Homo sapiens: one gene and its partners. The protein of the gene in region 7 purifies or fractionates together with the protein of the main gene of each other region. This does not show direct contact. Each region holds a gene or a part of one and is shown on either strand. Other genes may lie near its edges.

Evidence for each region.
Region 1: the proteins of SLC26A11 (region 7) and CAPRIN1 purify together in Homo sapiens (affinity purification with mass spectrometry; one large-scale study listed by BioGRID and IntAct). This does not show direct contact.
Region 2: the proteins of SLC26A11 (region 7) and API5 purify together in Homo sapiens (affinity purification with mass spectrometry; one large-scale study listed by BioGRID and IntAct). This does not show direct contact.
Region 3: the proteins of SLC26A11 (region 7) and EIF4H purify together in Homo sapiens (affinity purification with mass spectrometry; one large-scale study listed by BioGRID and IntAct). This does not show direct contact.
Region 4: the proteins of SLC26A11 (region 7) and MLLT10 purify together in Homo sapiens (affinity purification with mass spectrometry; one large-scale study listed by BioGRID and IntAct). This does not show direct contact.
Region 5: the proteins of SLC26A11 (region 7) and DDX42 purify together in Homo sapiens (affinity purification with mass spectrometry; one large-scale study listed by BioGRID and IntAct). This does not show direct contact.
Region 6: the proteins of SLC26A11 (region 7) and DDX46 purify together in Homo sapiens (affinity purification with mass spectrometry; one large-scale study listed by BioGRID and IntAct). This does not show direct contact.

What each region holds. Positions count from the first base shown.
Region 1 is NC_000011.10:34,096,731-34,099,920, forward strand, and holds part of CAPRIN1 (caprin-1), read left to right. Parts: intron 1-465; coding exon 466-566; intron 567-967; coding exon 968-1,031; coding exon of another isoform or gene 1,032-1,051; exon of another isoform or gene 1,052-2,330; intron 2,331-2,572; coding exon 2,573-2,637; 3' UTR 2,638-3,190. UniProt on the Homo sapiens protein: mRNA-binding protein that acts as a regulator of mRNAs transport, translation and/or stability, and which is involved in neurogenesis, synaptic plasticity in neurons and cell proliferation and migration in multiple cell types.
Region 2 is NC_000011.10:43,310,755-43,314,795, forward strand, and holds the start of API5 (apoptosis inhibitor 5), read left to right. Parts: upstream 1-1,241; 5' UTR 1,242-1,373; coding exon 1,374-1,442; intron 1,443-4,041. UniProt on the Homo sapiens protein: Antiapoptotic factor that may have a role in protein assembly. Negatively regulates ACIN1. By binding to ACIN1, it suppresses ACIN1 cleavage from CASP3 and ACIN1-mediated DNA fragmentation. Also known to efficiently suppress E2F1-induced apoptosis.
Region 3 is NC_000007.14:74,194,476-74,197,596, forward strand, and holds the end of EIF4H (eukaryotic translation initiation factor 4H), read left to right. Parts: intron 1-265; coding exon 266-403; intron 404-693; coding exon 694-833; 3' UTR 834-2,621; downstream 2,622-3,121. UniProt on the Homo sapiens protein: Stimulates the RNA helicase activity of EIF4A in the translation initiation complex. Binds weakly mRNA.
Region 4 is NC_000010.11:21,540,732-21,544,231, forward strand, and holds part of MLLT10 (protein AF-10), read left to right. Parts: intron 1-3,500. UniProt on the Homo sapiens protein: Probably involved in transcriptional regulation. In vitro or as fusion protein with KMT2A/MLL1 has transactivation activity. Binds to cruciform DNA.
Region 5 is NC_000017.11:63,780,670-63,784,169, forward strand, and holds part of DDX42 (ATP-dependent RNA helicase DDX42), read left to right. Parts: intron 1-3,500. UniProt on the Homo sapiens protein: ATP-dependent RNA helicase that binds to partially double-stranded RNAs (dsRNAs) in order to unwind RNA secondary structures. Unwinding is promoted in the presence of single-strand binding proteins.
Region 6 is NC_000005.10:134,828,200-134,831,621, forward strand, and holds the end of DDX46 (probable ATP-dependent RNA helicase DDX46), read left to right. Parts: intron 1-459; coding exon 460-507; 3' UTR 508-2,922; downstream 2,923-3,422. UniProt on the Homo sapiens protein: Component of the 17S U2 SnRNP complex of the spliceosome, a large ribonucleoprotein complex that removes introns from transcribed pre-mRNAs.
Region 7 is NC_000017.11:80,230,427-80,233,926, forward strand, and holds part of SLC26A11 (sodium-independent sulfate anion transporter), read left to right. Parts: intron 1-3,500. UniProt on the Homo sapiens protein: Sodium-independent anion exchanger mediating bicarbonate, chloride, sulfate and oxalate transport.

The DNA of each region.
Region 1 (3,190 bases), on a different chromosome or scaffold from region 7:
ATTTGTAAAATATATCACACAGTTTTTGGGAAGGATGTATCTGCATTAGCCTCCTATGTGCAATTTAAACAATGTATATTTTGGTACAATTTGTGTATTTGGTATAATTTGTTATTTAAATAACAGATCATGGAATTTTTGTTCATTTGGTTATGTCAAATTAATGTCTACCACTATCTCCTGGAGGATAAGTATTTTCCACATTACCAAAACTTACGGGGATTGTTTATTATATTTGTACAGATGTGTGTTTACATGCATAGATGGGTTAAAAGTTTATCTTCTGAGGGGCAGTTAGTACTTACAGAAATTTATAAACAGATTGGATCAAGATAGGAAATTGGAGATTAATTTGATTAACTAGCCTGGCTTATAATTTCTAGTTCTTCCCGTCTTCATTAATAAAAAAGTAAAAATTCCTTGTGAAGATAAGAAAATTATTTCTTTTCTTGTCCTAAATTTTAGGAGGATATGATGGTTACCGCCCTTCATTCTCTAACACTCCAAACAGTGGTTATACACAGTCTCAGTTCAGTGCTCCCCGGGATTACTCTGGCTATCAACGGGTAGGTAAAGTAGTTCTAAAGTGTAAACCTGAACTAAATATACCAATGAAAGTGACTTAGTGTTGTTGCTTAATGAACCTAAGTAACTAATTTGGCGTTAACTTTGTGGTGTCCAAGACACTCTGTTGAAACAAAAGCTTTTAGCACTCAACATCAGTACTCCTTTAGTAAAGCCTGTTAAAGACAGTGATTTCCAAGAGCAGAGAAATATATTTCACTGAATGTTCTTTGAGAATAGTAGAAGTACAACAATTACAGAACAAGGTGTAGCTGTGATAAACTGATACTGAAGTGTCTAAAAGATTAAGGAAGAATTCTGTATTGAGTGTTAGACTGAAAGAATAGATGGGTAAGCATTTTTTAAAAAGTACCTTTTCAATACTAACTAGCTTGTCTTTTAGGATGGATATCAGCAGAATTTCAAGCGAGGCTCTGGGCAGAGTGGACCACGGGGAGCCCCACGAGGTAATATTTTGTGGTGGTGATCCTAGCTCCTAAGTGGAGCTTCTGTTCTGGCCTTGGAAGAGCTGTTAATAGTCTGCATGTTAGGAATACATTTATCCTTTCCAGACTTGTTGCTAGGGATTAAATGAAATGCTCTGTTTCTAAAACTTAATCTTGGACCCAAATTTTAATTTTTGAATGATTTAATTTTCCCTGTTACTATATAAACTGTCTTGAAAACTAGAACATATTCTCTTCTCAGAAAAAGTGTTTTTCCAACTGAAAATTATTTTTCAGGTCCTAAAACCTGCTAAATGTTTTTAGGAAGTACTTACTGAAACATTTTTGTAAGACATTTTTGGAATGAGATTGAACATTTATATAAATTTATTATTCCTCTTTCATTTTTTTGAAACATGCCTATTATATTTTAGGGCCAGACACCCTTTAATGGCCGGATAAGCCATAGTTAACATTTAGAGAACCATTTAGAAGTGATAGAACTAATGGAATTTGCAATGCCTTTTGGACCTCTATTAGTGATATAAATATCAAGTTATTTCTGACTTTTAAACAAAACTCCCAAATTCCTAACTTATTGAGCTATACTTAAAAAAAATTACAGGTTTAGAGAGTTTTTTGTTTTTCTTTTACTGTTGGAAAACTACTTCCCATTTTGGCAGGAAGTTAACCTATTTAACAATTAGAGCTAGCATTTCATGTAGTCTGAAATTCTAAATGGTTCTCTGATTTGAGGGAGGTTAAACATCAAACAGGTTTCCTCTATTGGCCATAACATGTATAAAATGTGTGTTAAGGAGGAATTACAACGTACTTTGATTTGAATACTAGTAGAAACTGGCCAGGAAAAAGGTACATTTTTCTAAAAATTAATGGATCACTTGGGAATTACTGACTTGACTAGAAGTATCAAAGGATGTTTGCATGTGAATGTGGGTTATGTTCTTTCCCACCTTGTAGCATATTCGATGAAAGTTGAGTTAACTGATAGCTAAAAATCTGTTTTAACAGCATGTAAAAAGTTATTTTATCTGTTAAAAGTCATTATACAGTTTTGAATGTTATGTAGTTTCTTTTTAACAGTTTAGGTAATAAGGTCTGTTTTCATTCTGGTGCTTTTATTAATTTTGATAGTATGATGTTACTTACTACTGAAATGTAAGCTAGAGTGTACACTAGAATGTAAGCTCCATGAGAGCAGGTACCTTGTCTGTCTTCTCTGCTGTATCTATTCCCAACGCTTGATGATGGTGCCTGGCACATAGTAGGCACTCAATAAATATTTGTTGAATGAATGAATGAATGAGTACTGGTGGAATACTCCATTAGCTTTACTCTTCTTTTAGCTAAGAGAACATGAGCAAATTTGCGCATGACAACTTCCAGGACAGGGGAAACTTGAACACTGAAGAATTGACCTCTTAAGCCTAATAATGTGGTGACAGGCTGCCCACATGCTTCTTGACTTCAGATGAAAATCTGCTTGAAGGCAAAACAAATAATATTTGAAAGAAAAATCAAATGCCATTTTTGTCTTCTAGGTCGTGGAGGGCCCCCAAGACCCAACAGAGGGATGCCGCAAATGAACACTCAGCAAGTGAATTAATCTGATTCACAGGATTATGTTTAATCGCCAAAAACACACTGGCCAGTGTACCATAATATGTTACCAGAAGAGTTATTATCTATTTGTTCTCCCTTTCAGGAAACTTATTGTAAAGGGACTGTTTTCATCCCATAAAGACAGGACTACAATTGTCAGCTTTCTATTACCTGGATATGGAAGGAAACTATTTTTACTCTGCATGTTCTGTCCTAAGCGTCATCTTGAGCCTTGCACATGATACTCAGATTCCTCACCCTTGCTTAGGAGTAAAACAATATACTTTACAGGGTGATAATAATCTCCATAGTTATTTGAAGTGGCTTGAAAAAGGCAAGATTGACTTTTATGACATTGGATAAAATCTACAAATCAGCCCTCGAGTTATTCAATGATAACTGACAAACTAAATTATTTCCCTAGAAAGGAAGATGAAAGGAGTGGAGTGTGGTTTGGCAGAACAACTGCATTTCACAGCTTTTCCAGTTAAATTGGAGCACTGAACGTTCAGATGCATACCAAATTATGCATGGGTCCTAATCACACATATAAGGCT
Region 2 (4,041 bases), on a different chromosome or scaffold from region 7:
ATATAAATATATATTATTATCTTAATATATATAATATATATTATTATCTTAATATATATAATATATTATTATCTTAATATATATTATTATCTTAATATATAATTATATAATAATATACAATATATAATATATATTATATATATAATTGTATATATAATATAATATATAATATATATTATAATATTAATATCATAATATTATATATGATATATAAATATAATAATATATTAATATATATTAAGATAATAATATTAATATATTAATTATATAATTAATATATTATATATAATATAAGATAATTATAATATATAATTGATAATATTGATATATTAATTAATATTATATCTCAATATATAGATATATTATAATTATATTATATAATTAATGTATTAATTAATATTATTATCTTAATATATATTAATATAATATTATTATATTTATATTATATATTATATATTTATATATTAATATAATATTATTATATTTATATTATATATTATATATTTATATATTAATATATAATGTTATATATTATATAATATATAATATTATATATTAATATATAATATTATATATTATATAATATATAAAATTATTATATATTAATATATAATGTTATATATTATATAATATATAAAATATTATATATTATATCATATTATATATATAATTTCATTTAAACTTGTATCTTAGAAATTCTTATCAGTAAGCGTACGTGATTTCATTTATTTATTATTCTTTTGGATACTGGACATAATCAGGTGGCCCCAATTCTTTACACTGGCAGCAAAGATAAGCAAATTCTTCCAGCAGGCCAAATTTGACCCCGCACTTGATGAGCGTGGTGGACACAGAGGGTTTTTTAATAGCATAGGAATGTTTTTTGCTTCCCACCGGACCCACTAGCCTCTAGTGCCACCGATTAATATTACCTTCCTTGAATCAGGAGGAAACCATTTGTGACTTCTCATATGTAAGATCTTCTAAGGGCAGAAACGCAATTGTCTTTGTATTCACTTCCCCGCCCACCCACACCCCTTCCATGGAGAGCCTGCAGCCAAGCTCAAGCTTTCAAAAAGGCGTGAGCTAATTCAATCATCCTTGCCGCTTTTTTGCTCCTCCAGGCTGTAGAGGGCGACAAAAACCGCGGAGGCGCATTGGGGTGGGGGGTGTCTACTGAAGGCCGCTCCCGACGTGCGCGTCTTTACGTAGACGTCGGGGGCGCAGCCGCGCTGTGCGCGGTGACTGGCGGCTGCACTGGCGGCAGCTGGAGGTGTAATAGTGCGGGTAGTGGGTTTGGAGAAGTTCCGAGGCGGCGGTGGCGCCGGTCAGGACAAGGATAGCGGAACCGGGCCCTGGGCTTGTCGCTCACCATGCCGACAGTAGAGGAGCTTTACCGCAATTATGGCATCCTGGCCGATGCCACGGAGCAAGTGGGCCAGGTGAGTTGAGTCCCCGGGCGGCCTGCAGGGCCTGGCGCTCCGCGGCCTTTCGAAAGCGCTTCCCGCCGCACTCCCCGGGCCGAGCGGGGGCTGCGGCTTCATCCTCCCGGGGCCTCCTAGCCTCCTCAGGCCGTCTCGTCGGGGTGGGCCTCTCTGGGAGTGTAGACTCTGGTTTCACCAGGGAGACCGCGGTCCCCAGGGTTCCAGGCTTCCTTGCCTCCCTTGCCCAGCCTTTTCTCACCGTGGCGTAACCTAACTCAGCCCGTTCAGGCTCACGTTAATTCTTCTCACGGAGCTTTTCTCTACAGGATTCTCTTAAGCCTTTCTCCTTTTCGGTGGAGCTCAGTGCTTCCAAGATTAGATCGGGAGTTTTCTTCATGAGGTCAAGATGTGTTTTTTTTGGGGGGGAGGCAAAATTCTGCTACTAATTGAAGAAGAGTGTTTAGGAGACAGAAGTTTGTGAGAAACAGAAGAGGGACTCTTTGGTCCAGACTTTGATGAGAGCTCACGGTTTCATTTATTCAGTGCATTTTTTTGAGTGCCGAGCGCTGGAGATACAGATGGAAAGGTCCGCGCTCTCCCAGAATGTACAGTTAGGAGGGAGTGTAGTAAGAAAGATAGGCATTGTGAGGCCCGGCTTGGTGGCTCACGCCTGTAATCCGAGCACTTTGGGAGGCCGAGGCGGGCGGATCACGAGGTCAGGAGTTCGAGACCAGCCTGACCCACATGGTGAAACCCTGTCTCTACTAAAAATACAAAAATTAGCCGGGCGTGGTGACACGCGCTTGTAATCCTAGCTACTCAGGAGGCTGAGGTGGGAGGATTGCTTGAACCCGGGAGGCAGAGGTTGCGGTGAGCCGAGATCGCTTCACTGCACTCCAGCCTGGGAGACAAAGCAAGACCCCGTCTCAAAAAAAAAAAAAAAGGTTTTTTTTAAAAATTTATTCTTTTTAATGAAACATGTTTGAAGAAAATAAAACAGGGCTGGGCGAAGGAGAGTGTGAGTGCGCAGCTCTGAATGGAGTTGTCTGGAAGAGCTCTCTTAACGATGCTTGCCCCCGATACACAGTTTCTCAGCAGTGTTGAATTATCCATACAAGTCATTTGTTCCCTGTATGAGTTTTCAAGTACTGGAGTACATTGAACTTGATAAGTGGTTGGGTATGTGTGTTCTTGGGAAAAGAACCAGGCTCTCCTGGAGGTAACCTTGATCATTGTTTTAGAAATCCCACACCATAGCTTTTCAGCGCTTAGAACTTTGTGATTTTTCTGCTTACGCATCCCTTCTTGGAGAAAGTGGAAGATTCTAGTCTATTAACAGTCGTGGGAGTACCTTTCCCGTCCCCTTTTCTTAACATAATTCAAATAGGACTTTTCTGAGCTGAACGAAAAAAAAAAAATTTCATGTTGGAGATTTATTGTAGCTTAATCTAGAATTAAGAATATACCAGTTTGAAATAGCAAATGATTTTTTTTCCTTCATTCCCTGTCAGTAGGGAATTTCACTTTTATCAGTAAGAAATGTATACGGATGTTCTGCTGTACATGTGGATAGAGTGTGTAGGTCGGTTGTGAAGGAGGAATATTCTGTTCATTAAGAAGGTAAAAACTGCCAGGCACGGTGGCTCACGCCTGTAATCCCAATTCTTTAAGGGGCGTGGATGGGCAGATCAGTTGAGATCAGGAGTTCGAGACCAGCCTGGCCAACATGGTGAACCCCCATCTCTACTAAAAATACAAAAATTAGCCAGGCGTGGTGGCATGCGCCTGAAGTCCCAGCTATTTGGGAGGCTGAGGCAGGACAATTGCTTGAACCCGGAGGGTGGAGGTTCCTGTGAGCTGATATCGGGCCACTGCACTCCAGCCTGGGCAACAGAGCAAGACTCCATCTCAAACAAAAAATTAAAAAAAAAAAAAGATACAAACTATGTGTGGTCAATCAGTTTGAATTTGTTGTTCCTAAAAAGAACTAGTAGTGAAGATATTCTCAATCGTATAATTTATCTGTGACTTAGTTGGGTAACTTTGTAGCAAATTGTTCTACCTACGTTAGACTTTGTTGCATATCAGTAGGGGGATAGGGTGAAAGCTACAACAGTGGTTGTGTCAGGAATCCTTCTAAGAAACCTTTGAAACCGTATACATAATGCTGTCCATCCCCTACTCTAATTTTGAGAGTTGCTTGCATTTCCTTCTCATGTCATCTTTATAAAAACCAGATTGAATTGAGAGTTCTCCCCAAGGGGTCAAAATGTCTTTCACAGCAAAAATCTACTCTTTATTTAGTAAGGGTACTTTAGAGACAAGTTTGTGAAAAATGAAAAAGGATACCTTTGTCTACACTTTAATGAGGACTCCATGCTTTATTCCGTACATTTCACCTACCATGTACCACACACCCGGCTGGACACTGAAATTTAACACAATTCTCTGTAGGTTATGGGTGATCAATGCGTTCTGTATTGACAACTGTCAAGCAACTATTTAAACAGTATCTCTGCATAATGAGATGTAGTGGTTAGCTCAGGCAGCTCAAATATTGTGAATTGTAGGAAAACCGAAGATAATGCCTACTAATTCTGCTCTGTTGGGTTATACT
Region 3 (3,121 bases), on a different chromosome or scaffold from region 7:
ATGCAAGCTGAGCATGTAAACAGCTCGTTTGTTTGCTCTCCTAAGATCTTGATTCCTTTTTCTTTGGGAAGTCTGTTAGCGCTGTCATTACTCCACACATTGGCATTTGGACCCACTTTTAACACACTTTATTTTGGAGAGACTTCAGATAGTGGACAAACTAAAGAATTTAAAATGAAACTCAAACAATTCCCAGAACATTATTCTATAAGCAGCTTGGAGACGATAGTTTGAAAAGTAATTCAGTGTCCTGTTTCTTCCTCAGGCTTCAGGGATGACTTCTTAGGGGGCAGGGGAGGTAGTCGCCCAGGCGACCGGCGAACAGGCCCCCCCATGGGCAGCCGCTTCAGAGATGGCCCTCCCCTCCGTGGATCCAACATGGATTTCAGAGAACCCACAGAAGGTACGGGCTCATGTGTCAGTGGAGGGCATCTTGTCCTGATGGGATGATCATGGCCGGTTCACACCCCGTGGGGACTTGGCGTTCTACGGCACACAGAGTTGTCGGCATAGATCCCCACGTTCTCTGGAATAGCAAGTTCACCTTGGTCATTAGAGCATCTGCTGTTGGGGTAGCAGGCCAGGTGAATTTTAGAAAGTGGGCTGGTTTGCTGACAGCAACATCAGCATGGTCGTTTTGCTGGATATGGAATGGGATCCACACTCTGACAAACTCTGCTTTTTCTCCCCCAGAGGAAAGAGCACAGAGACCACGACTCCAGCTTAAACCTCGAACAGTCGCGACGCCCCTCAATCAAGTAGCCAATCCCAACTCTGCTATCTTCGGGGGTGCCAGGCCTAGAGAGGAAGTCGTTCAAAAGGAGCAAGAATGAGCCTGCGGTTGGGAGGGAATGGGGCGTGGGGGGTTAGAGCAGGACCACAGCCTGGTGAGTCCCCGGGCAGCCGTCCTGCAGCCGCCACTCCTGCGCCTGCCATTGGCCTCCTCACAGCGGAAACACAGCTTGTGAGTGCATGTCAGCTGTTAACAAGTGGTTTTTAGTACATTCTGGGCTTTGCTGTATCTATCTAGTGCCTGTTTGTGCGTTTTTTTCTTTCTTCCGCTGCTTCCCCATTTTCCTTCTGTCCTTTTTCTCCTGCTCCTTGTTTTCCCAGCAGCACATGGGGTTCCTCGGAGGAGCAGAGGTGGCCGCCGTGGGGGGGCGTTTGGGCTGCGGTGCTGCGTCATTTTTCCTTTGCTTTCTCTTTACTTTAGACACTGGCCCAACTCCAGGCGTTTCCTTTCATTCCCTCAGTGCTTCTCTTCTGACCTGCATGTTGAGTTCTGTATTGCTGGGGCTTCCAACAAAAACCAGAGTCACTGACAGAGGGAACAGCAGAGACCTTGTTGGTATTCAGCTGTGATGGATATAGAGAATCAGAGGCACCTTGTTTTCACAACTAGGATAAAAATATCTGCAGGGTCCTTTCCATTCCTATTTAGAGGGAGTCCTGGCTCCATGACCCCCTCCCGAGTGGACTGTCCAAGCAGATAGGCTCACACGAGAAACAGTGAGGCTGAAAGGGGGGGCTATGGAAGAGCGGTAGGGAGTCCACGGAGAAGATGCAGTGAATGCTTGCATGCATTCACACGTGTGTGTGTCCCAGCTAGTTCACTCCTTTCGCCGTGCGTGGTGGAGGCTGGCCTCTCTGGCTGGGTGCAGTGAATGGCCAGCGGGTTTCTTTTCTGCTGGGCCAAGGCGCTTTGGGGGTGGAGGGGGTGGTGCTGGTGCTGCACTGGGCTGACTGCGGCGCTGACGCAGCGTTTCCCCCCATCCCTGTTGCCTGTGTGTTGTGTGGATCTGTTCCTAGTATAGGCAACATAATGAGATACTGTGCTTCCCACCTCCCCTTCAGTTCAGAGCCAAAATGGGTCTAGAATCTGGCACTTTACTCATTTCCTTTGATAAATTGTACTATGCAGAGCTGTCAGGAACCTTCAGATAGCAGTAGAGGACTGCAGCTGTCTAGGTCTGCGGCCACATCTTGGGGACACACTGGACTGTTCCCATGTGCAGGGTTCAGCAGTTATGTGGGAGTGCTAGGGGTTAGGCTTTTGAGCTTGAACGCCTGCGTGTGAACAGATGAAAAATCCTTCAGTACCCAAGTCCCAGTCTGTCCTATGGGGAGCAGTTTGGGGGCGGCCGGCAGCAGGAGCCTGGGAAAGAGGCCCTCGCCAGGTGATGGCAGGGCCAGGGTGGCCTGGGGCACCCAGCGGAATGTGCTTAGTATTTGGTCACCAGCCGTCATCCTGGGCTTTTCCTACTGTGTCTTGTTACAAGGCCTCAGCAATCCACAGAACTCTCTCTCCTTCCTTCCACCTGTCAGCTTCTCTGCTTCTGAGATAAGAACCATTTGTGTAACACCAACACTTAACTTCAGAAAGACATGCATTATGTGGTGTAATCAAACCCGATGCTTTCAGATGACCTACTTACATCTTCAATGTGGATAAGATAAAGAACAAAACACATGCATCTAAACTGCTGGGCAATCCAGTTGACTTTTAAATGTAAGAATGGAATTCCAAACACTTAACACATTCAGCTATATGACAGAAAGTAAATCTATGGATATGGTATTTTGTGAATGATCTTTTAAATAAAAGAAAACCTTACGTAATATTTAATGCTTGCCTTTATTTTTGAGTTCTTTTTAGCTGCTCATGGAATGTAACAATTTTAAATTTGGGAAGCACCATTGAAATGGAAGAGTCTTCCTGTCATTTTAATTCTGGGATGAGTGAAGTTATTTTAAAAGCTGGTGATGATTAGAAATAGGATGCCAATTTTTTCCCCTCACTTGCTAAAAATGTCCTTTTCCCAACCAGGCAGAAACCTTGAAAGTCTGGCTGTTTTTGGTTAGGTAAAGGAACATTTTTTTCCCAAGATGGAAGAAATCAAGCATTTACACAACATGTGGCTTCTTTTAACAACTGCTTGTAAACGAAATTCTAGGTGCCCCTCATGGCTGGGAGGGCTGCTGCTTCCTGACAGCAGATCCTGACTCTGGGGAGGTGCTGCTATAGGTTGGTATTGGATAGTGTTAAAATTGACTTAGGCAGACAAAGAAGAGCTGAGTGGGCAAGGTGCGGGGCATGAATGCGTGTTTGGCAAAGTCCTGG
Region 4 (3,500 bases), on a different chromosome or scaffold from region 7:
GTTATAGCAAATTCCTTTCCCTTGGTGTTGATTATGGAATTAGACTGAAGGTAGAGAACAAACATTTTAGCTTCTTTACCTAGGCATATAGCAAAAGCAGAAGCTTTTGTGTTTGCCTGGGCAATTTTTGAGCGGTAGAAATAATGGGCTGGGTGCTGTGGCTCGTGCTTGTAATCCTTGCACTGTGGGAGGCCAAAGTGGGTGGATGACCTGAGGTCAGGAGTTTGAGACCAGCCTGAGCAACATGGCGAAACCCCACCTCTACTAAAAATACAAAAATTAGCTGGGTGTGGTGGTGTGCACCTGTAATGCCAGCCACTTGGGAGACTGAGGCAGGAGAATCGCTTGGACCTGGGAGGCAGAGGTTCCAGTGAGCTGAGGTTGCGCCACTGCACTCCAGCCTGGGCGACAGAGCGAGACTCGTCTCACAAAAAAAGAAAGAAATAATGGTTGAGTAACCTATAAAAATGTGTTGAGTCTCAGAACTATTTGTATTTTATTATTTTGAGACAGTCTTGCTCTGTTCCCCAGGCTGGAGTGGAGTGGCGCAATCATTGCTCACTGCAGCCTTGAAGTCCTGAGCTCAAGAGATCCTCCTGCCGCAGCTTCCTGAGTAGCTGGGACTTACAGGCCTGTAGCACTTAACACCCAGCTAATTTTTTAATTTTATTTTTGAGACAGTCTCGCTCTGTCGCCCTGGCCGGAGTGAAGTAGCGCCATCTCCGCTCACTGCAACCTCTGCCTCCTGGATTCAAACGATTCTCCTGCCTCAGTCTCCCATGTATCTGGGACTACAGACATGCGCCACCACACCCAGCTAATTTTTGTACTTTTAGTAGAGATGGGGTTTCACCATGTTGGCCAGGCTGGTCTCGATCTCCTGACCTCAGGTGATCTGCCTGCTTTGGCCTCCCGAAGTACTGGGATTACAGGCGTGAGCTACCACGCCCGGCCTGAATTTTACTAGAAATGAGGTCTTGCTTTGTTGACCAGCCTCGTCTGGAATTCCTGAGCTCAAGCAGTCCTCCTACCTCAGCCTCCCAAAGTGGTGGGATTACAGGTGTGAGCATCCGTGCCCGGCCAGAGCAATTTTTTTATAGTTCCGATGATATGTTTTGGTTGTGTGTGAGAATGCACTTTAATAGAATTACAGCTGTTATTCTAGTGTGATTTAGCAAATGGAGGATAAAATCAATCATAGAAAGTTTGGGACTTGGTGAAATCTTTATAGCGTTACTCTTTGACTTTTTTTTCTTTGTATCATGTTACGGTTTGTGGTGAATAGGTCACTACGCAGTGGAACGTATGGTTTATTAGTAAACACTGACAATGAGATGAGGCTGTTCCTGGGGGTGTCACAGTAGATTGAAGGCTGGAAAAGATAGGAAAATAAGGTGGGTATTCAGAGAGAGAAGATAATGAATAGGGAGTGTCAGAATGCCAGCATCATTTGCCTCAAATGCCACTTGTTACGTGCTTCCACTCTTTTATTCTCTCTGAGGACATGGTCAAAGTGTCAGTGTGAATAAGGTAGTTAACTTAAAAGGTGTATTAGGGCTGGGCATGGTGGCTCAAGCCTGTAATCCCAGCACTTTGGGAGGCTCAGGTAGGCAGATCACATGAGGTCAGGAGTTCGAGACCAGCCTGGCTAACATCTTAAAACCCCGTTTCTTCTAAAAATACAAAAAATTAGCCGGGCGTGGTAGTGAGCGCCTGTAATCCCAGCTACTCGGGAGACTGAAGCAGGAGATCCGCCCGAACCCGGGAGGCAGAGGTTGCAGTGAGCTGAGATCGTGCCATTGCACTCCATCTTGGGCAATGAGTGAAACTCTGTCTCAAAAAAATATATATATATTAGATGCTGCTGGGAGCAGTGGCTTGCGCCTATAATCCCAGTGCTTTGAGAGGCCGAGGTGAGAGGATCACGCCTGAGTTGGAGATCAGGCCACAAGTTGGAGATCAGCCTGGACAACATAGTGAGACCTTATCTCTACAAAAAGAAAAAAAAAATTAACCACATGTGGTGGTGTACTTGTCCTAGCTACGTGGGAGGCCGAGGCAGGAGGATCCATTGAGCCTGTGAGTTTGAGGTTGCAATGAGCTATAGTCACACTACTGCACACTAGTCCAGGTGACAAAGTGAAACCCTCTTTAAGAAAAAGAAGTTTTTGCAGGGGGGCATTTTATTTTAACATCATTTGGTGGGATGTGGGTGACATTAAGGTTTTTTTTTTGTTTTTTTTTTGAGACGAAATTTTGCTGTGTTGCCCAGGCTGGAGTGCAATGGCGCGATCTCGGCTCACTGCAGCATCCGCCTCCCGGGTTCAAGTGATTCTCCTGCCTCAGCCTCCGGAGTAGCTGAGATTACAGACACCATGCCCGGCTAGTTTTTTGTTTTTCTTTTTTGAGATGGAGTTTCGTTCTTGTTGCCTAGGCTAGAGTGCAATGGCACAATCTTGGCTCACCACAACCTCCACCTCCTGGATTCAAGCGATTTTCCTGCCTCAGTCTCCCCAGTAGCTGGGGTTACAGACATGCGTCACCATGCCCGGCTAATTTTTGTATTTTTAGTAGAGACAGGGCTTCTCCATTTTGGCCAGGCTGGTCTCGAACTCCTGACCTCAGGTGATCCACCCGCCTCAGCCTCCCAAAGTGCTGGGTTTACAGGCGTGAGCCATGTTGCCTGGCCAAGGATTTTTAAAGAAGAGGCAAAAGCAAAACCTTTTTAAAATTATATTTAAAAATATATATTATGTTTTTTTGGAGACAGAGTTTAATTCTTGTTGCCCAGGCTTGGAGTGCAGTGGCATCATCTTGGCTCACTGCAACCTCCGCCTCCCGGGTTCAAGCGATTCTCCTGCCTCAGCCTCCGGAGTAGCTGGGATTACAGGTGTGTGCCACCACGCCCAGCTAAGTTTTGTATTTTTAGTAGAGATGGGGTTTCTTCATGTTGGTCAGACTGATCTCGAACTGCTGACCTCCGGTGATCTGCCCACCTTGGCCTCCCAAAGTGCTGGGATTACCATTGTGAGCCACTATGCCCGGTCTGTAGTGTATAATTATGAAAGGCAGGGTCCTTTGTAAGAAACAGATAAGCAAAGAAAGGGCATTGTATTATAAGGACACAGGAGTCAAGAACCCTAACATGGAAATGTATTTCACCCAGAAAGGGAATTGAATTAGTCTTATGAATCTTTTTTCTACTTTTGTCTGCATGCCTGCTTCCATTCTTTTCTTTCTGCCGACTTACTGTGCTACTTGTTCCAAAATGAGTAGCTAACTTTTTGAGTGTTTACTATGTGCCCACATACTGTGCTAAATGTTTTATGCCAGTTACTTCATTTAAGCATCCTGTCACATCTATGAGGTGGATATTATTCTTACTTTATGGGTAAGGATACTATAGTTTTAAGAGAGATAGATGTTTTATGACAGTCTGGGATGTGATTAAGCTCTTAACCACTGTGTTACCTCTTAACCACCATGTTGCCTCCTATGGT
Region 5 (3,500 bases), about 16 Mb from region 7:
AAGGATCGCTTTTCCAACTTGCTAAGTCTTGAGAGCCAGTAAGCAACCCTCACCTGCCCAAGGTCTCACTGCCTGCCTGTTTGTGGCAGGAGTTGATTTGCTGCTTTTGTAATATGAACCTTTTGATTATTTAATAGGGCTGATTCATAGTCATGTTTGTTCTTTTCACTCCTTCCCTCTAGCTTTGGGGGAAGAGTGAGTTACTCCTGTTGTTAAAAGTTTTGATTGTGTCTGGTCTTCTCTGGAAATCCTATGACTTTTTTCTGTCATTTTGCATCTTCAGTTTTTCAGACTTTACTGGTTTTTCCCCTTTAGCATATAAACATGCCTATGTTTCTTTAAAAAATAAAATTTCTGTAGGTAATGCTTCACTTTCTCCTTCCTATCATTGATAAACAGCCTACAAAGTACTCTTGACTCCTCTTGACCTAGTCTTCATCTTCTACTACTTACTTGCCAGGTACTCCTCAACCCTGTCCCTACTGCTCCATTGAAACTGCTTTCACTGATGACTCCTGGTTGCCTATACAACAGAAGAATTTTAGTTCTTTTTGTTTTGTTTTTTTGAGACAGAGTCTCGCACTCTCGCCCAGGCTGGAGTGTAGTAGCCGGATCTTGGCTCACCGCAAGCTCTACCTCCCAGGTTCATGCCTTTCTCCTGCCTCAGCCTCCTGAGTAGCCGGAACTACAGGTGCCCGCCACCACGTCCGGCTAATTTTTTGTATTTTTAGTAGAGATGGGGTTTCACCGTGTTAGCCAGGATGGTCTTGATCTCCTGACCTTGTGATCCGCCTGCCTTGGCCTCCCAAAGTGCTGGGATTACAGGCGTGAGCCACCGTGCCTGGCACATTTTAGTTCTTAACTTACCTAACTTCTCTTTAGTTTTCTGCCTATAGAGCTTCTTTCTCCTCACCCGTGTTCCTCCTTGTCTCCCCTTCCTTCTTTCCCCCTCTTCTTTCTTTCCCTTCCCCAATCCCTGTTCCATCTGAAGTTTCCATGTAAGCTTCTCTTTTTCTGCCCATTCCTAAATAGTGATATATGTTAAGAATTGTCTTACTGGGCCGGATGTGGTGGCTCACGCCTGTAATCCTAGCACTTTGGGAGGCCGAGGCAGGTGGATCACGAGGCCAGGAGATCGAGACCATCCTGGCTAACATGGTGAAACCCCGTCTCTACTAAAAATACAAAAAATTAGCCGGGCCTGGTGGCAGGTGCCTGTAGTCCCAGCTACTGGGGAGGCTGAGGCAGGAGAATGGTGTGAACCCGGGAGGCAGAGCTTGCAGTGAGCCGAGATTGTGCCACTGCACTCCAGCCTGGGCGACAGAGTGAGACTCCGTCTCAAAAAATAAAAATAAAAAAAGAATTGTCTTACCAGCTGGGCGCAGTGGATCACGAGGTCAGGAGTTTGAGACCAGCCTGGCCAACATGGTGAAACCTGTCTCTACTAAAAATACAAAAATTAGCTGGGCACGGTGGTGCGTGCTTGTAATCCCAGCTACTCGGGAGGCTGAGGCAGGAGAATTGCTTGAACTCAGGAGGCGGAGGTTGCAGTGAGCCAAGATCATGCCATTGCCCTCCAGCTCTGGGCGACAGAGCAAGACTCCGTCTTGGGGAGAAAAGAAAGAATTGTCTTACTTCTTTTCTCACTCTGCATGGTCTCTCTGCTAGCTTATTTACATCAGTAACCTCAAATGCAAATGGCTTACATCAAATCTATAGCTCACTCCGGACCCCTCTCTGCAGTTACTGCCCCTGCTTGGCATCTCTACTCAGCTCTCTCATAGATACTGAACTCACCTTTTGCCTAATTTTGCAAACCTGGCTCTTTTAGGTTTCCATCTCCATTAGTGGCTCCACAGTTCACCCAGTCTTTAAAGCCAGAAACTTCTGAAGTTATTCTAGACTCTTCTTCCTTAGCTTCCACACCAATTACTGGTCACACAATCCTAATTGATCTTTCCTCAGATATCTAAATAAATAACTCAGATCCATCCCCCGTTTCTCCTTTCCCACAGGTGCTTTCTTAGTTCAGAATTTTGTCGCTTTATACCTGCGTTGCTGCAACAGCCTTCTACTTTCCTTGCCTCTACCATGAGTATCTCTCATTCTGTCTTTCAAAAACACTGATCTGAAAATTTCCCTTCTGTGTAAAATTAACGATTCTTTGTAGCTGGCAGAATACAGTTTTGTATGGTACGTCGTTAGCATAGCCTTCTAAGCTGTTCATCTTGGCCCTACCTGTCTTTCTGAACATGTGTCCTGCAAATTTCCCAAATGTGCTACTGAACTCTAGCTGCACTGAACTATTTCTTGTTCTCTGTGGTAACACTTAACAGATCCTTCCATCTGAAATGCCCTTCTTTAATGCCTCTTTGATCTAATGCCTCTTGAGGTTTCAAAATTTAACATGTCATCTCTCAGAACACTTCTATGCCTTTGCTCCCACTCATGGACCACCAGTGAATGCACTCTGTATAGTACGTCTGTTAGAACGCATCATGTTGTTTTCAGCTGCCTCAGACTGCACTGTCTACTCCTTGAGAACAGGGACTGTATCTTTCATGTATGAATGCCTAGCACATCATATACCACCTGACCTTCTCAGCAAGCTTTCAGTAAACCATTGAAAGTTTTCCTGCTAGGAGATTGTGTGATTCTTAAAATCCACCTGAACGTAAATGTCTTTCCACTATCCTTTCTTTGCCTTCTCATCCTTATGGCTTATTAGCTCCTTGTTATACATTGTATACACTAGGAAAAATGAGATTAAAATTGAGCCCATCCTTTTTGTTGCTTGGGAACACCTCTTGTAAAGATAGCTTATAGATTAGTTTAAAAACGTCAGATGCTGAAATTTTCTTGCTTGTAAAGATTCTTACTAAATTTCATCACACTGGAATTACGTTGATTCCTTGATTGAAGGAATCCCCTTATGGGATTCCGAAAGACAGCAGGAGATGAAGTTCAGGTAAATTAGTACTTACTAAATACATACCTTAGTCATTCTCACTGTTAGAGAAGGAAGTCCAAAATGAGTAAAGACAGTTTCTATCTGGAGTTAAGGGTCTAAGTAGAGATTGATGTAGTGTAATTCAAGTTTAATACTAAGCAGCCTGGGTGCCGTGGCTCACACCTGTAATCCCAGCACTTCGGGAGGCCAAGGTGGTTGGATTGATTGAGGTCGGGAGTACAAGACCAGCCTGCCTAACATAACGAAACCCCATCTCTACTAAAAATACAAAAAATTAGCTGAGCCTGGTGGCACACGCCTGTAATCCCAGCTACTCGGGAGGCTGAGACAGGATAATCACTTGAACCATGGAGGCAGAGGTTGCAGTGAGCTAAGATTGTACCACTGCACTCCAGCCTGGGAGGCAGAGTGAAACTCTGTCTCCCAAAAAAACAAACAGACAAACAAAAACCTTAAAACTAAGCAAACAACTAAGTGCTGTGTATAATAGCAGTTGAACAAAACCTATGAAGTATATATAGACAAGGGG
Region 6 (3,422 bases), on a different chromosome or scaffold from region 7:
TAATTCTGAGAGCTTTTCTAAAATTCCCCTCACAGAGCATTCCTTTTTTTGTTGGGGGGTGGGGGTGGTTAGAAGTTTAATGAAAAGTGGGTTCACAAAACAAGAGGGAAAAAGTAAAACAGCTGTTAAATCATGTGCTTAATACTATTTCACCAAGGAGTGGTCGAAAAGAATCTTGTGCCCATAGATGCTACCACCATTAGGTTGATTCAAAACATAGTTGTTAAGGAATAGTTGAGTGAACAGAGAATTCATTAGTTATTGAATAGTTTTTCCTTTCTCAATGCAGTAATAGTAACATTTAAAATTTTAAATAACCAATAGTTTTATAAGTTGGCAAAGGAAATGATCTTAAATATTTCCTTTTGGGTTTGTTTGGTTGGTTGGTTGGTTCGTTTTTTTTTTTTGTTTTTTTTGTTTTGCTTTCTCTGATGACATATCTTTTATTTCCTATTACAGCAAAATTCATACCAACCAACAAATAAAGGAAGATACAAAGTCTTATAGACATCCGGAAAAAAGATTTTTACCTGTGCTGGTCTATGATGTATGTGGCAGTTGCTGTCTGCAGTTTACAATGTATTGTAAATGAAGATTTTTTAAATTCTATCTTGCTGATTTTTTTTAAATATAAGAAACTGGTACTTGGTAAAGAAATCTGTCCGTAAGTACCCCCACAATCAGTCAAACTATATTTAAAGCCAGCCTGTTTTCAGAGTATGATGTCCTTTAATGTAAACTCAAATATCAATATTTTAAATGTCCGGATAATATTCTAGAGGTTTAAAAAATGGAAATATTTGAACTTTCTATTGAAGACAATAAAGTACACAAGTCGTTAAGGGGCTATTCACTTTATCCTGTACTTTCAATGAAATTGTGATCATTTCCTAAGAAAAGGTAAAATTCACTATCATATTTTGTGTCCCCACCTTGATGTTACATGACTCTGGAACAATATGAACTGGATTTAAGAATGTTATAATAGAAGTCTTACAAAATGGGTTGAGAGTTTTTGTTTCAATTTTTATCATCATAAATGGGCAAAAAGTAGTTGGACTAATTTCGGTTTTTATACAAGTAAAGATTTAATAGTATAAGGATTTTTTTGCATTTCTTTACACTGAGTGTAAAACTCTACAAAGAGTTATAGTATTTACTACTTTGAGGTTTCCCTCACAACTTCTGGCTCCATACCTAGCCCCTCTTTTATAATCTTCCTTAAAAGAAAGAGTGTAGCCTATAAATACTAAATATGATACCTTTTCCTTCTAGAAAGTGTTTATTTATATATCTATACATGTTGTATGTACAAATATCCTACTACTTTTAATCTGATTTTTCTTCAGGATTATTGAGTAGGTTGTGAATTTTCTTTCTTAAAAATTGTAAAACATAATGGTACCCAAGTTTTAAACTTAGATGTGCTTCATCTTAGTGAAATTTAATTCACAAGGAATCATAAATTGTGTTTTTGAGGCTGGGCGCAGTGACTCACACCTGTATCCCAGCAATTTGGGAGGCCGAGGTGGGCAGATCACTTGAGGTCAGGAGTTCAAGACTAGCCTGGTCAACATGGTGAAACCCTGTCTCTACTAAAAATACAAAAATTAGTCGGCATGGTGGTGGGTGGCTGTAATCCCAGCTACTCAGGAGGCTGAGGCAGAAGAATCTGAGCCAAGATAACACCATTGCACTCCAGCCTGGGCGACAGAGTGAGACTATCTCAAAAATAAATAAATAAATAAATAAATAGTATTTTTGAGCCTTCAAGATACAGTTCCTGAATATTCTAATTTAAATTGTTATAATTGGATTACCTAATATTCTTTTCAAGACTCCTGATGTATTAACTTCATGTTATTGTCACTTTTCAAAAAAGGAATTTTTTTCAGGAGTTAAATAAAGTCAGTCTTTTATATCCAAGGGTTTCAAACCCACAGATTAAACCAACCACAGATCAAAAATAGAAAAAAAAAAAAAAAGAAAAAAAGAATGTAAAATTTTAAAAATACAGTTTAACAGCTGTAAAAGTTTTACTATAACATTTACATTGTGTTAGGTATTTTAAGTAATTTAAAGGTTACAGTATACAGGCGGTTAAAGTATACAGGAGGATGTGCATCGGTTATATGCATATAGCAAGCCATTTCATATAAGAGGCTTGAACATCCATGGATTTTGGTATAGAGGAGGGGTTTAAGGGGTGTCCTGCAATCAGTCCCCCTCTCATACCAAAGGATGACTGTATATTTCTTAAATGAAGAGACTTTCATTCTTTAAATATTATTGACTTACAGTTTAAAAATAAATAAATAAAAGCATACTATAGTTGTAAAAACAAATAATTTTAATAGTATATTCAGTGGCTGAAGTGATAGGGAGTATTAATCATTATTTCTTCAGTATAAAGTTATTCTTCCTGAAAAAGTAAGATATACCTGGGAAATATTCTTGGATCCTTCACACATCCACTTAATTTCTTGAAGGAAGAAAACAGACAAAAGACATGTAACAACAGAAACAAATAAACCACTTACTGTAAAATTTCAGAAATTGTGGGCTCATTCCCTCCCTCTAGTTTATTTATTTGCTCATCTTTATCACCTAATGGTAGTTTGTTTTCTTTGGTAGAGTATATGGCAGTCCCACATCGATGATAATTGGTGCTCCCTTCATCCAACTGGATCACTTTGAGATTCAGTTTTACATCATTTTAGCATTTTGTTTGTATATCAGTTGTGATGAGCCACTGATAAAATTTTGTTCTAAAATGAAACATATTACTTTGTTAGTACATTTTTTAGTGTCACACTGACTTTTAAAATTTGAATGATATATAGACTTTGTTTTTTTAATGCAATATGAATATTTGCTCATGTTTTCTAAATTCCTTATAAAATAAAATTAATTCGAATTCAATCTGCACTTTCTTAAAATTATCTTTCCTCAATGCTTTTTCTTTCTTCTGTTTCTCTAATTTTGTTTATGTTGGTGAGAGAAGTATTATACTCTCTATTTTTATTTAAAAAATTCTAGCAACTTATTACCCAAAATATTTATAATTCTGTTCCAAAAATGTCTTCCTGAAGAAGGCTCTTAAGTCTTTTATGTTCATTGTATTTAGCATAAGAGAAACATAGGTGAAATAATAGGTTCATTTACCAGTTGGGGTTTTGCCACAGTGACACTCTTACAAAATGGATATGTAGGCTGGGTGCGGTGGCTCATGCCTGTAATCCCAGCACTTTGGGAGGCTGAGGCAGGCAGATCACCTGGGGTCAGGAGCTCAGGACCAGTCTGACCAACACGGAGAGACCCAGTCTCTACTAAAAATACAAAATTAGCCAGGTGTGGTGGCACATGCCTGTAATCCCAGCTACTCGGGAGGCTGAGGCAGGCGAATCGCTTGAACCCGGGAG
Region 7 (3,500 bases):
CCAAAGCTGTGGTTTAGGCCACAGCCTTTATCGAGATTTTCTTGATAAAGGCAAGGTGAAGAAAGGCGACCAGCTTAGGACTTGCAGTTGGAGGAATTTTGGTGGGTTTCAGGCTTAAGGCAGAAAAATCTTGCCTCCTGGGGTGCAGGCCAGGCTGGTGGAGGAAGGATGGCTCCAGAGGGGTTAGCTGGCATATCAGAGACACACTTGGGGCTGCTTTTTTCTCTAGTACTTGCCTAACCCTGAAGGCAGTGTCTCCGCAGCCAGAAAGGTCTTTTAAGATGTCTAGACATCGTAATGTACAGAAACTTCAGAAACATTTACAGTGTAGGGCTGCTGACTCCTTTCTCCCCAGTGTGTGTAGCATTGTCTTAGGAAACTACTTAAAAAGCTTTTGATTCTTATAACAGCTTTGAGAATGAGTTTATTATTTTTTCCATTTTGTCAGTGAGGAAAGTGAGCCTATGAAAGATGAAAAATAAAACAGAACTTCTCAAGGCCACACGACTGGGAAGAGGCAGAACAAGGACTTCACCCGAGTCGTCTGTCTTTTTTTCTGAATGGTCTGTCTAGAAGTGTGTCAATGTTATGATCCTCTCAAAGAACCACCTTTGGTTTCATTGATCTCCCTTTTGCTTTGGTTTTCTAGTTCATTGATTTCTGCTTGGGCCTTTATTATTTCCTTTCTTCTATTTATTTTCAGTTAACTTTATCCTTTTTTTTTTTTTTTTTCAAAAAAAATTTTTTTTTTTTGAGACGGAGTTTCGCTCTTGTCCCCCAGGTTGGAGTGCAATGGTGTGATCTCAGCTCACTGCAACCTCCGCCTCCCGGGTTCAAGTGATTCTCCTGCCTCAGCCTCCCAAGTAGCTGGGATTACAGGCGTATGCCACCATGCCTGGCTAATTTTTTGTATTTTTAGTGGAGACGGGGTTTCACCATGTTGGCCAGGCTGGTCTCGAACTCCTGAACTCAGGTGATCCACCCGCCTCAGCCTCCCAAAGTGCTGGGATTACAGGCGTGAGCCACTGTGCCCGGCCTTTTTTTTCAGATTCTTAAGGTGGAAGCCTGGATCTTTGATTTGAGACCTTTCTTCTTTTCTAATATGGTTGTTTAAATGCTGTAAATTTCACTCCTAGCATTACTTTAGCTGCATCCCACAGTTTTTATATATATGCTGTTCTTTAATTTTTATTCGGTTCTAAATACTTTGTGATTTCCATTTTGACTTCTCCTTTGACCTGTGGATTATTTAGAAGTGGATTATATGATTTCTTCTGTGAACCATGGGAGTTATTTAGTTTCCAAATAGTTGGGGGTTTCCCAATTAGTACTTTGCCATTGATTTCTAATTTAGTTCCATTGTGATAAGAAAACGTACTTAGTGATTTAAATCTGTTTTCCTTTATTGAGAGTTGTATTATGGCCCTGAATATGGTCTATCTTAGTGAATATTCTGTGTGTGCTTGAGAACATGTTTTCTGCCATTATTGGGTGGAATGTTCTGTAAATGTCAGTTAGGTCTGGTTGGTTATCTCAGGCTACTATATTCTTGCTGATTTTCTTTCTACTTGTTCTGTTGATTATTAAAAGAAGAATGTTGAAATAACTTCAGCTATAACCATGACTTTGTCTATTTTCCTTTCTTACTTACCAGTTATTGTTTCATATATTTTGAAGCTCTGTTTTTTAGTATAAAAACATATAGAATTATAATTTTCTCTTGGAATGATACTTTTTTTTCTGGGCAATATTCTCTTCCCTGAAATCTACTTTGATACTAAGAGAGCTACTCCAGCTTTCATTAGTGTTAGCATATCTTTTCCCATCTTTTTACTTTTTTTTTTTTGAGACAGAATCTCTCTCTGTTGCCCAGGCTGGAGTGCAATGGCGTGATCTTGGCTCACTGCAACCTCCACCTCCCAGGTTCAAGCAATTGTTGTGCCTCAGCCTCCCAAGTAGCTGGAATTACAGGCTTGCACCACCAAGCCCAGCTAATTTTTGTGTTTTTAGTAGCAATGAGGTTTCACCATGTTGGCCAGCCTGGTCTCAAATTCTTGGCCTCAAGTGATCCACCTGCCTTGGCCTCCCAAAGTGCTGGGACACCACACCCAGCCTCCTATCTTTTTACTTTTAACGTATTTAATTGATTTGTGTTCTTGTGTTTAATGGTATGTTTTATGGGCAGCATATAGATGGGATTTGTTTTTAATCTCATAATCTCTGCCTTTTAATTGGAATCTTATGCCATTTATATTTAATGTGATTATTGGTCTGTTTGACTTTAGATCTACCATGTTGCTGTTTGTTTCCTGTTTGTCTCATTTGTTCTTTGTTCCCTTTTCCCCCTCCTTCTACCTCTATTGGATTATTTTTTATGATTCCATTTTACATCCTTTATTGGCTGATTAGCTGTAACGGCTATATTTAGTTTTTGTTTGTTTGTTTCTAAGTGACTGCTTTAAGGTTTGTGGTAAACATCTTTATCTTGCTACAGTATACATTAAACTTCAACTTCATGTGATATAAGAACCTTATAACAGGCCAGGCGCAGTGGCTCACACCTATAATCCTAGCACTTTGGGAGGCTGAGGGAGGCAGATTGTCTGAGCTCAGGAGTCTAAGACCAGCCTGGGCAACATGGCGAAACCCCATCTCTACCAAAAATACAAAAAATTAGCCAGGCATGGTGGTGCATGCCTGTAATCCCAGCTACTGGGGAGGCTGAGGTGGGAGGATTGCTTGAACCTGGAAGGCAGAGATTGCAGTGAGCCAAGATCCGTCACTGAAGCTGCAAACTCCTGGGCTCAAGTAATTCTCCTGCCTCAGCCTCCTGAGTAGCTTGGTCTACAGGCATGCACCACCACATCTGGCTAATTTTTTAAATTTTTTTATAGAAACGGGCTATGTTGCTCAGGCTGATCAAAGGTTCTTGGCCTCAAGTGATGCTCCTGCCTCAGCCAACCAAAGTGCTGAGATTGCAGATGTGAGCCACCATTCCCTGCAGGAACAGTCTTAGATTTATCCACGTAGTCACTGTTTCTGGTGCTCTTAATTCCTTTGTACAAATCCAGATTTCCATCTGGTATAATTTTCCTTCTACCTGAAGGATGTTATTTTTTCTTCTGTTGCAGGCCTGTTGGTGATTAACTCTTTCAGCATTTTTTTTTTTTTATTTGACAGGATTCACTCTGTCACTCAGGCTGGAATGCAGTGGTACAATTATAGTTCACTGCAGCCTTGAACTCCTAGACCCAAGCAATCCTCAGCCTCCTGAGTGGCTGGGACTATAGGCATGCATCACCACGCCTGGATAATTTTTTATTTTTACTTTTTGTAGAGATGGTGTCTTCCTACGTTGCCCAGGCTGGTCTCTTACTCCTGGGCTCAAGGGATCCTCCCACTTTGGCTTCCCAAATGTTGGGATTACAGGTGTGAGCCACTACTCCTGGTCTTCTTTCAACTTTCGACTTTTGTATGTCTGAAAGTCTATTTTGCCTTCA